Linked DNA regions of Homo sapiens: region 1 is reported to be linked to region 2. Evidence: microRNA targets listed by miRTarBase, many of them from high-throughput screens and not tested one by one. Region 2 holds a microRNA gene; the other region holds the end of a gene's coding sequence.
What was found. The annotated mature microRNA hsa-miR-335-5p reads UCAAGAGCAAUAACGAAAAAUGU and lies in region 2 at 2,576-2,598, opposite strand. An mRNA with a match to its seed (bases 2 to 7 or 8) in the 3' UTR can be bound and repressed. Matches are read on the target gene's strand: a 7mer-m8 pairs with bases 2 to 8, a 7mer-A1 pairs with bases 2 to 7 and ends in A, and an 8mer does both.

Region 1: the mRNA of LOXL1 is a reported target of hsa-miR-335-5p. The part of its 3' UTR that is shown has no 7-base or 8-base seed match.

What each region holds. Positions count from the first base shown.
Region 1 is chr15:73,950,915-73,955,985 of GRCh38, reverse strand. LOXL1 (lysyl oxidase like 1) reads right to left here. Exons shown (of 7, transcript NM_005576.4): 7 at 3,850-4,155. The coding sequence ends at 4,149. Among named protein-coding and RNA genes, the nearest start is that of LOXL1-AS1, 25 kb to the right of the region's middle. RefSeq lists an enhancer at 2,772-3,455.
Region 2 is chr7:130,493,653-130,498,723 of GRCh38, reverse strand. It overlaps MIR335 (microRNA 335), which reads right to left and starts at 2,613; the gene lies at 2,520-2,613. It overlaps MEST (mesoderm specific transcript), which reads right to left. Exons shown (of 12, transcript NM_002402.4): 2 at 3,202-3,356; 3 at 1,489-1,568; 4 at 711-788; 5 at 449-585; 6 at 247-305.

The DNA of each region.
Region 1 (5,071 bases), not on the chromosome of region 2:
GCCTCTCTCTGTGGCATCCTCCAAGCCAGATAACGCCCCAGCCCTCACCAGGCTGCAGCCCTAGCAGTGCCTCTGCTGGCTCCCTGCTCCCCTTCTGAGGCAGTCCCCCTGCTGCTTGCCCACCTTCCCCCAGGCTGGACTTTGCCTATCACTCCCTACCCAGCCTCCTTCTACCTCCCATTTCCTCCCCTCCCTCTCTTCTCTTCCCCTGCCCCTTCTTCTCTGCCAGGTAAGGACTAGCAAGACACTCAGCCCCCTCAGGACAGATAGGGAGACTGAGGCCCACTGAAGGACAGAGTCAGGGCCACAGCTGTGCCCCCTGCCAGGTGTCGCCTCTGCTGTCTCTGTCCTTCCTGCTGTCCAGTCACATCCACCAGAGTCATTTACTTAGTAGACCCCGAGGACCAGCCCAAGGGAAGGCTGCGGGGCAGGGGGTGGGGGTCTGTTTCACCTCAAGGTGTTTCTAACAGCAAATGTCTCGAGAAGCAGTGAGCTCCCCAGCCCTGGGGCTGAGCAAGAAGAGGACAGGGAGGGATGCTGGGCAGGTGACTTGAGGCCCTTACAGCCCAGGTGGATTCCTGCACACCAGTGCCCAGTGTACCAGCAGAGACCCTCTTGGTCTGTGCAGCCCAGAAGGAGGTGCTGGGTCAGGAGTGAAGATGGCACCTATGGTTTTTTTGTTGTTGTTGTTTTGCTTTTCTTTTTTTTTTTTTTTTGAGGTAGAGTCTTACTCTATCGCCCAGGCTGGAGTGCAGTGGCACAATCTTGGCTCACTGCAACCTTCGCCTCCTGGGTTCAAGCGATTCTCCTGCCTCAGCCTCCCGAATAGCTGGGATTACAGGCGCGTGCCACCATGCCTGGCTAATTTTTGTATTTTTAGCAGAGATGGGGTTTTGCCGTGTTGGCCAGTTGGTCTCGAACTCCTGACCCCAAGTGATCTGCCCGCCTCGACCTCCCACAGCGCTGGAATTACAGGCGTGAGCCACTGCACCTGGCTGAGATGGCACCTATGTAACCTTTGTCCAGCATGCAAGGCTCGGGTGCCTCCTCCCATGCCCCTGTGTGTCCGTGGCAGGGTGGGGGTGGGAGAGTCCTGAATGAGGCCACACAGTGCACCCCAGTTGAAGGGGAGAGGGGATGGTTAAGGAAGGCTTCGAGAAATCGGGGTTTCAGCTGGCCTTGAAGGGGCAAACGGAAGGGTGAAGGGACCAGTGGGCCTGAGTCCCTGCGTCACGTGACCTGGCCTCCAGTGGGCCTCACACACCCCTCCCTGGGCCTGGCTTGGTGGGGTGAGCCCAACAGGTGAGCTCTATCTAGGGAGGGGCCCGAGCCAGGTGACAGCAAGAACAAGGAACAAGCAGGCTGTTCCTCCATGCAGTGACAGCCAGACAGACCTCAAGAGGCTGAGGCCGAGCTGGGAGAGCACTCCTCTCCCAGCCGCCCTCCTCAGCTCAGCGCCTGCTGGGCCCCTGCCGTCTTGACAGTTTTTCTCTCCCCATTCTCAGGGAGACTCTGCCATTCTACATGGAGTCAAAATACCTGAGGAAACCCTGCCCCCTGAGGTGGGAGCAGCTGCATCTCCTTTCCCGAGGGGCCGTCACTGCTGGGCAGTGCCGTGAAGCTGCACTGATAGGGCCCTGACAGGTCAGCCAGGAAGCGGTGAGGGCTGCCCTGGTCCCTGCGCGTCACGGCTGTCTTCTCTCTTCTCTCTCTATCTCTCTTCTCCTTTGGGTGAAAGCCTCCTCTGCTTTTTGGGGGGCAAAGGGGTATCTGAAGCCCCTCCCCAGAGATCTAATCTCAGAGTCCTCCCAGCATGTGAGGACTGGCCCAGGTGTCCTCACTCTGATGGCAGGCTTGGGGACATCCACCAGCCCCCCTAGAATCTGAACTTCAGGCCAAAGGTTCATGGGCACGCGGGAGCACTGTGTCTGGGAGTCTCCTTGTGTGCTCCCCACCTCCCCACACTTTGTGATGTGTGGGCTTTTTGGAAAAGCCACCCTTACTCTCTCCTTCCATCCAATTCTGTGTTCAGGGCCATAGCTCATCTGCTGAGGGTACAGATCTCCCCAGAAAACTGCACACACCCGGCATTTGGCCCTGGCCTAGGGCTTAGAGACGTGAGCTCCAGCACTGTGTCTGCCTTGAACTTGCCTGTGGTCTCAGACAGGCTTCAGTTTTCTGACCTGAGAAATGGGGGCTTTTGTCTCTACCTCATACGGGCCTCCTGACAGTCTGGAATTGGTTGACCTTGTCTGACCCCCTCCCAAGCTCACTCCTGGGAGTATCTAGGAAGGAGAGGGGGTGGGGCTGCAATAAGGACAGCATCTTGGGAAGCACACACCGGCAGGGGATGCAGCAGAATGGCAGCCCTGGATGACAGGCATGTGCCTGTACTCCTCTCACCCGTCCTGGTCCAGCTCCAGAGGGAGAGTGGCAGAGCTGCGGCACCTACCCTGTCAGCAGAGTTAAATCCCAGCCAGACCTGCAGAGGAAGGGCCGAGGGAGGGCTGCAGCCACACCCACTCCACCCTGCTGCCTGGGCTGGTGAGTGGCCCAAGGGCTCCAGGGGACTGGGCCAGAACCCTCCTGGATGCATAGCATGGCTCCAAGAAGCCCTCCCTCTCTACTGCACCAGAAAACCTCCTTGCTACCAGGGACCCTGAGGCAAGGATCGCATCAGAGCCAAAAGCAGGGGACACCTTCTTGGAGGACCTCTGCAAATGGGCTGGGGCTCACCAAGATCTGGAGGGGTGGGTGCTGACACCCTGTAGCTCCCCCGGCACCTCCCCTGCAGCAGTAGCTCATCAACTCTCCATGTCAGTGTGGGAGCCAGGCAGGAGGGCATTCCCATCTTACTCATGAGGAAACTGAGGCCCGGAGATGAAGTCTGACTTGCCCACAGTCACACAGCAGTGAGCAGGATTGGCCCTGGAACCCAGAGCCCTGGTACTTGGACAAAGTCTCTTTCCCTTTCTCACTGGTGTTGCCCCCACAGGGAAGCAGGTGGGTCTGGAGGCATCCCGAGGGCTCGTTGTTCAGGGCCTCGAGGAGGAGAGGCACCACCCTCTCACTTCTTCCTGGTCCATTCCAGTGTCCAGGACCTCTGGGATGCCACAGCCAGGGCAGGGGACGGGGGCTGCAGGGCTGCGGGGCCTCCCTCCATCTCCCACTCACACCCTGTCGGCCTGCAGCCCCACCTCATGATCTCTGCTCAATGCTGTCTCTCTGCCAAGAATCCTCTTCTCCCCTCCCTGCCTGGAAGGAGGCTCTCTCCCATGTGAAGGCTCCCCAGAACCCCTAGGTGCTGCCTCACTGGGCAACGCGTGCTCCCCGTTCCCTGTGGTTATGCGCTCCCTGAGGGCAGAAGCTACGATGCTCCTGCGTGTGCCCTAGCACAGCACCTGGCCTTCAGGAGACTTGAGTTCGGGAGCCTGCAATTGTAAGGGAGTGGGTGGCTGGTGGAGAGTGAACGGTGTGAGAGTGAGAGGGCCAGGAGGGGGACCGGTGGGAGTGTGAGGCTGAAGGCTGAGAAGGGGCAGCAGTGGGCACACGAGCCCAGATAGGAGCAGGGGCTGAGCAGGGAGAGCAGGCTGGTGCCGCCCACCCCGCTGCAGGGCCCTCCCCTAGTCGGATGTGGTCCCATTCCCATGCGACAGGCTTGGCCAAGGGCTCAACCCCACAGGCTTCCACGATGGGCTCAGCGCCCTCATGGTCACTGTGGTCCTGACCGGGTGGTGGCTGCCCTTTCCACATTTGGCGAGGGGAAGGATGATGCCTAAGGACATCCCCCAGGCCCAAACTAGCTGTGGCTGGCCAGCCAGCCAGCAGGCCGCATGCAGAGCCACAGAGTAGAAAAACCTTGTTTTATTCAGCCCAGACCTGGGCAATCTAGCTCTGTGGTATGGCCAAAGTATAAAAAATAAAAACCAACAACAACAAAACAACACTGTAGAGAAAAGTGAAGTATAAAATGGGGTCTGGCGTCCGGAATCCCTGTGGTTTTCATCCACGTTCGCTCCCTGAGGCCGGCAGGGAGGGATGCCCCTCCGTGCCTGTGGGTTGGGGGCTGGGCCCCTCGGCGGGAGGCTGCCCGGGGAGCAGGGCCTGCTTTGGAAGGGGAGAGATTGGCCATCTGTCCCTCCCGGAGATCAGGATCTGAGGAAGGAAAGACAGTGGGTCAATGAGGGGCTGCAAAGTAGGCCCCCGTGGCCTCCTCAGCCAGGGCGTCCCTCCCACAGCCCAGATCCCTCGTGGCAGGGCAGGCATGGGCCTACATTTCCCTCAAGAGAAAGTTCCGACCCCCTCAGCCCAGCTCCAAAAGGAGGGGTTTGATGGACTCCCACCCACCCAGGGCACAGTCTCAGCACATTCCCCTCCCCATGCCCTAGTCCCAGATTGTTTTCTAGGCCATTAGCAGAGCTGCTACTGTCTGGAAATACTTTCTTGTTTTTTCTAACTCAGTACTTTTTTTTTTTTAAGCCTCCTTTTTCCTCCAGAAACACGATGGAAACCCACAGGCGTCAGTCCCGTGGCCTTTCTGGGAACGCTCTGTCCAGCTTCCTGTGCACGCTGGCCCAGCTGCCTGCCTGCGGTCAGGGTCACAGAGACTGAGACACTCTAATAAGGCCCGGCCTTTCCAAGCACTTATGTAAAGAGCTCTTGGAAGGAAGGGCTTTGGCTCCCCCTGCTGCCCACAGGCCCCCGGGGAGCTGGGAGGGCCGCGCAGGCTGCTTCTCCATCTGCCCTGCCGACAGCCCTCCTGGCTGCTCCAGGCGCCTGGCACGTGGGATGCTGTTTCTGTTCCCATCCCCCTTTCCCAGCAGCAGGAGGGATTCCCTGCCTCCCCGAGCCCCCAGCAGCCTCCTTTGTTTCCTGGATACCCCCTTCTTCCTTCCTCCTCCTTCCCTAGAATGGCTTCTACCACTTAGGTGACCCTGGGTCTTGAATGGCTAAGACAGGCCCTGAGGAGCAGGAATGTGCTGGAAACCCAGGCCTGCTAAAGAGCCAAACTGCCAGTGATGGGACAGGAGTTCGTCCTTTCAAACATGCTGTGTGCCCTGGGGAATTCTGA
Region 2 (5,071 bases):
TTGACTATGTAAGTAAAGTCACTATCCTTTGTAATGCTGTTTGTTTCTTTATTTTAAAACATTCTGAGAAAGGGTCCATAAATCTTGTCAGACCACCAAAGGAGTTGATGGCACAGAAGAGGTAGAGATCCCATAGTTTAATTATGTCTACTTGAAATATTATCAGATTACCATTTAGGTGCCGCTGTATCTAAAGATGGCCCTTCTAGATTACACCCACTTTCTACCTACCGCCAAGGCAATTACCTCCATTTGACAGACAGAGACTCTTTATGGTAAGCCGACCAGATCGATTCTGCTTGTACCTAGAAGGGAGACGAGGAAACACACATGTAGCTGAGCAAACTTAAACCAGTGCACCGCTGAAAACGAGAGAAAAAGGATACAAACAGTCCAGAAACAATGTACTTTCCTAGCATCATAAGCTGAAGTCTGAAGCTCCACTGACCTGTAGAGAAGCTCCTGAGCAACAATATCTCCATAGTCATGAGAAAGAAGGTTGATCCTGCGGTTCTGGAGCCCCAGATGCCGCAAAAGCGCTTCCACGATGCTGGCCTGCTCAAATATGGAATAGTGATGTGGTCTCTGAGGAAAGGAAAGCCCACATACACAGGATGAAGTCATGAGGACAGCTCTCTCTGCCAGCCTGACCCTCATAGTCTGCGTCTGCCCCCACACCCCATCACCAGCCCCACATAGGTGCTGCTTACCGGTTTGTCACTGAAGCCAAAGCCTAAGAAATCAAGGGCAATCACCCGATGAAACCTCAAGGTCAGACCTTCCCAAATCTACAAGAAAGAAACGATGATTTGGGCTTTCTGCTCCTGCCCCTCCCTTTCACCAGACCTACAGTTGCACAGGAGCTTCAGCCCTATCTTGGCTTAACAGACTTCCATAAAGAGAAAACGCCATGAAACTACCACAGGTCCCACAGATGATCCTCTTGGAAAATGCTTTATTCCTGGTAATTAATCCCTGTTGAGGGAGGGTAACTTGGCAGTGATCCCTTCCAGAGTGCCAAGGAGTTGTTTATTCCCTTCAGTAAATAAGGAACAGTTCAACATTTAATGTTTTTTTAAAAGCAATTCAAATGTGCAAGAGCCTTCTGGTGCTGACAACAAAATCCTTGAGGTTTTTTAAATTTTTATTAAAAAAAAATTTTTTTTTGAGACAGACTCTCGCTCTGTCACCTAGGCTGAAGTGCAGTGGTGCAATCTCAGCTCACTGCAACCTCTGCCTCCCGGGTTCAAGCGATTCTCCTGCCTCAGCCTCCCAAGTAGCTGGGATTACAGGCTTGTGCCACCATGCCTGGCCAATTTTTATACTTTTAGTAGAGATGGGGTTTTGCCATGTTGGCCTGGCTGGTCTCAAACTCCTGACCTCAGGTCATCCTCCCACCTCAGCCTCCCAAAGTGCTAGGATTTGAGCCCCCGCGCCCGGCCGAGATTTTTTAAGACATAGTAGGACGTAGAAGTCTGACTTCATTACCTTGTACCAGTCGTAGCTGGATGTTGGAAAACCGTGTAAAAGCACAACTATCTCTGGACTTCCAACCACACCCACAGAGTCTAGGAAGAAGGAAAGTACAATCAATTATGCCAAATCCCTATAAAAATAACCTCGAAGATGTTAAAATCTAAGTAATCTGATACAAAGAACAAGCAACTGTGACCAAATTGACATTAAAATGACACAATTATTTGTAAAATGTAAGCTTAACTGCGTTAGGTGAGAACAGGCCTTTTCTCCTTTCAATCTGTATATTAAAACATTGTAAAAATCATGCTATGTGAAAATACTTGAAGGCACCTTGTTTACTTTCACCTAGGTGTTTTTAAACAGCATCTCCCCATTTCTCCTTTTGTTCTGTAATATGCAAATTTTTTCAGTGAAAAGTAAATTTTCAGTTAAAAGCATATGATCACAACACATAAACTACAAATTCTTTGTACTTTATCATGAATGGCCTCACAGAAATTCTCTAAGATACAGCAACTATTCCCAAGGAACACCTTTAGCTTATGCTGTTTGCTCAGCACTTTTTATTCAGCAGGAGACCCAATCTAACATCAAAAACATAATAAAACTATTACAAAATCCTGTCAACTATAAAAAGGGCTTAATCAACATAAACATGAACTTTTTTAATGCATATGACAATATGGAAGCATTCAGCATCATCTAAATTAGGTAAACATTTAGACAATATTAACCTTGCTAATAGTATGGGATTAGAACAGGTATATTCATATACTGCCAGTGACATGAAAATTTGGTAATAAGGTTTTCAAAAATAATTTAGAAGCAGTTAAAAATTGTATATACTTTAGCCTAAGAGTTTTGTTCTTGAGAATCTGTGCAAATAAAATCATTCCATTTATACAAGTAGTATAGTTTGAAAATGTAAGGAAAAAATAAACTGTATGGACATGAAGCTTTTACTTCAACATTAGTTTTCTAAAACAGTAAAACTGGAAGTAACCCAAGCCAACATAATAAAAATTGTATACTTACTTAATTGAATATAGCAAATGAGAGGAGGTCAGGAGCAATAATGAAAAACGGTTTATGACAAACATTTTTCGTTATTGCTCTTGACCCCCGCTCAAAACAAATCATTTCCAATCTGTTTCTCAGTTTCTTCACCTATAAAATGAGGTTAATGGCACCTATCTCCAAATGCTGTTGTAAAGATTAAACAATGAAGGCTGAAAACATAACTCAGTGCCTGGCATATGGTAATTACTTGATAAGTAGTGGTCATAATAATCATCATCACTAGCAAATTAATTTATATAATGGTATCAAGACTTAAATCACAGTTACACTACAAATAATCTACAGAAAAAATGAAATCAGGGATGGTAAGGAGAGAGAACCAATGGTGGTTATATCTATTAATATTTTATATATTACCTGACAGGTTGCTCAAAAAAAAAAAAAAACTAATATTGGAATACATATCAAGCTACAAAGAAAACTTATACTAAAAGGTAAGGTCTGCAGGTTGGAATCTCAGTCCCTACCCCCATTCTCCCAGCAGTTTTCTGCGCTTCTCTGCAAGCACACTACACAGAAAGAGAGAGAGATACTCTCCTCCATCATTAAGGAGCAACAAGAGACCAATAGCCACAAAATAAATACCTCAGCTGGGACTTATGTGACCGATACACGCAGGACTTCCAATAGTCCACTTCTTACCTTGGTAGAAGATACGCAGTCCCTTGTAAGTGAAAAACTTGCCTGAAGACTTCCATGAGTGAAGGGCAGGGGAGAGCTGAGGGGGTGGGATGTGCAGGTACGCAGCAAGCAGGGGCACGGCCAGCAGCCCCACCTGGACCCACCACTCCCTCATCCTGTAGGAAAAGCAGAGACCCACTGTAAGCAGTCAGGTAACATTGTCCACTCATCTACAAACCAAAACCTGGTAAGATGGGGTGGGAGATTGCTGTTACCATGCAATGATTACATTGCCCTTCACATAGGCACAAAGCTGACCGAGACTATAATCAAACCTCTGTCTGCCATAGCACTCACCATATTTGTTCATCATTCTAATCTTAAGGAAAAAAAATACATTATTTCAACATATAATCTTCTGCCTCTGCTCCCCGACTTTAACCCCTTAGCCCCTACCCTTGTGGTCTTCCCAATACCTGCTGAAGAGGACTTTATATAAATAAAAGGGACATGACTTAAATGCTGGACACTCTTTCGTTGACTTTTATCAAGGCTTCCCAGGAAAAAAATAACTTCTTTCTTATTTACTCCAAAAGCTCTACCATCTACCCACTACCCCCAACCAGTAAAATGTTCAAAAAATATATATGTGCTATATCTCATGTTTTAAAGAGTGTGTGTGTGTAGTAACTTATCACATGTCCTCAAGCAGAGAGCTACTCCTGATTTTCAGCCCTCCTGCCTAAATGAAGCCCCATTTAGTACTCCTTTCTGGATTTGGGCTGAGAAACTGCTCAGGGTAAACAGTCTGTGAAAGTAAGATAGCTGCACTGTGTATTCCAACATAAGCAGCTTTGTCATGACCCTGAATATCTAATCTCTTGAGAGGTCAAGGCGGTAGATTACATTTCTGCTTTTCTTAGCAGACTCTTTAAGTTTCCATTTAATTTCCTAAGATGCTCCCCCACCCCCAGATAAGGCATAACTCATACCCAGCGTGTGAGAATTGATTTTGTCTTTGGAAAAAGAGCACTGGTTGGTACACCCAACCCTCCCATGCCCAGGACTTCAAAGGCACAAGTCAGTTTATCCACATTGACAAGGAGTGCCAAACAGGAATTATAAACCGTTCTGTTTCAAGTCTATGACTTCTGATGGTCAACAGATCAAGAATTGTCAGTAGAATGGAAGTTCTCTCAAAACAGCCAGAATGGAAATAATACCCTCCAAAACTAAAATTAGAGTTGTCATAGAGCTGAAATAAATTAATTGCTAAAGCCCTGGGGGAAATGGCTTTCCGTCTGTACACACATTCTTCCCTATTGCCTGTAATCTACCTACCCGTTCGCTAACTTCCTCAACTTACAAGATACTTTTCCCCCCCATATCCCTGATACTTTTTGCTAAAATCTAAAAACAAGCCTGTGGTTTTACAGTGGTAAAATAACCATGTTTCTTAAACAATGTCAGCTCCCCAGGCTATTTTTTAGGCATTATTAGGGCAGTCATTTCTTTTTTTCTCCAAAGTACCTGTCCATAAGACGGATAGAACCATTTGGTCCTACTTCTCAAGGTAATACTAGAAATGGTTCAAAAAAGTGCCAGAACATGATGGTTATATCACAGTTTTCACCCAACAATAGCAGGCTGTATCCCAGTATCTCCTTGAAAGGTCAGATGACAAAAACCATTAGGTTTTGACGATCATTTGCCCAGCCCTATCTGTCCTGTACTTCAATGTATACATTTTCATGTGCAGATTTCATTACTCCTTTCCCCCAGTGCTTCTCATCGCATTCATCCCCGGGGTTCCAGCAGCTGAATCTCTGCAGTGACTCAGCAGAGAGCCCCGGGAGGGGCGGCCAGAGCGGCAAATGGGGAGGCTTCCCCG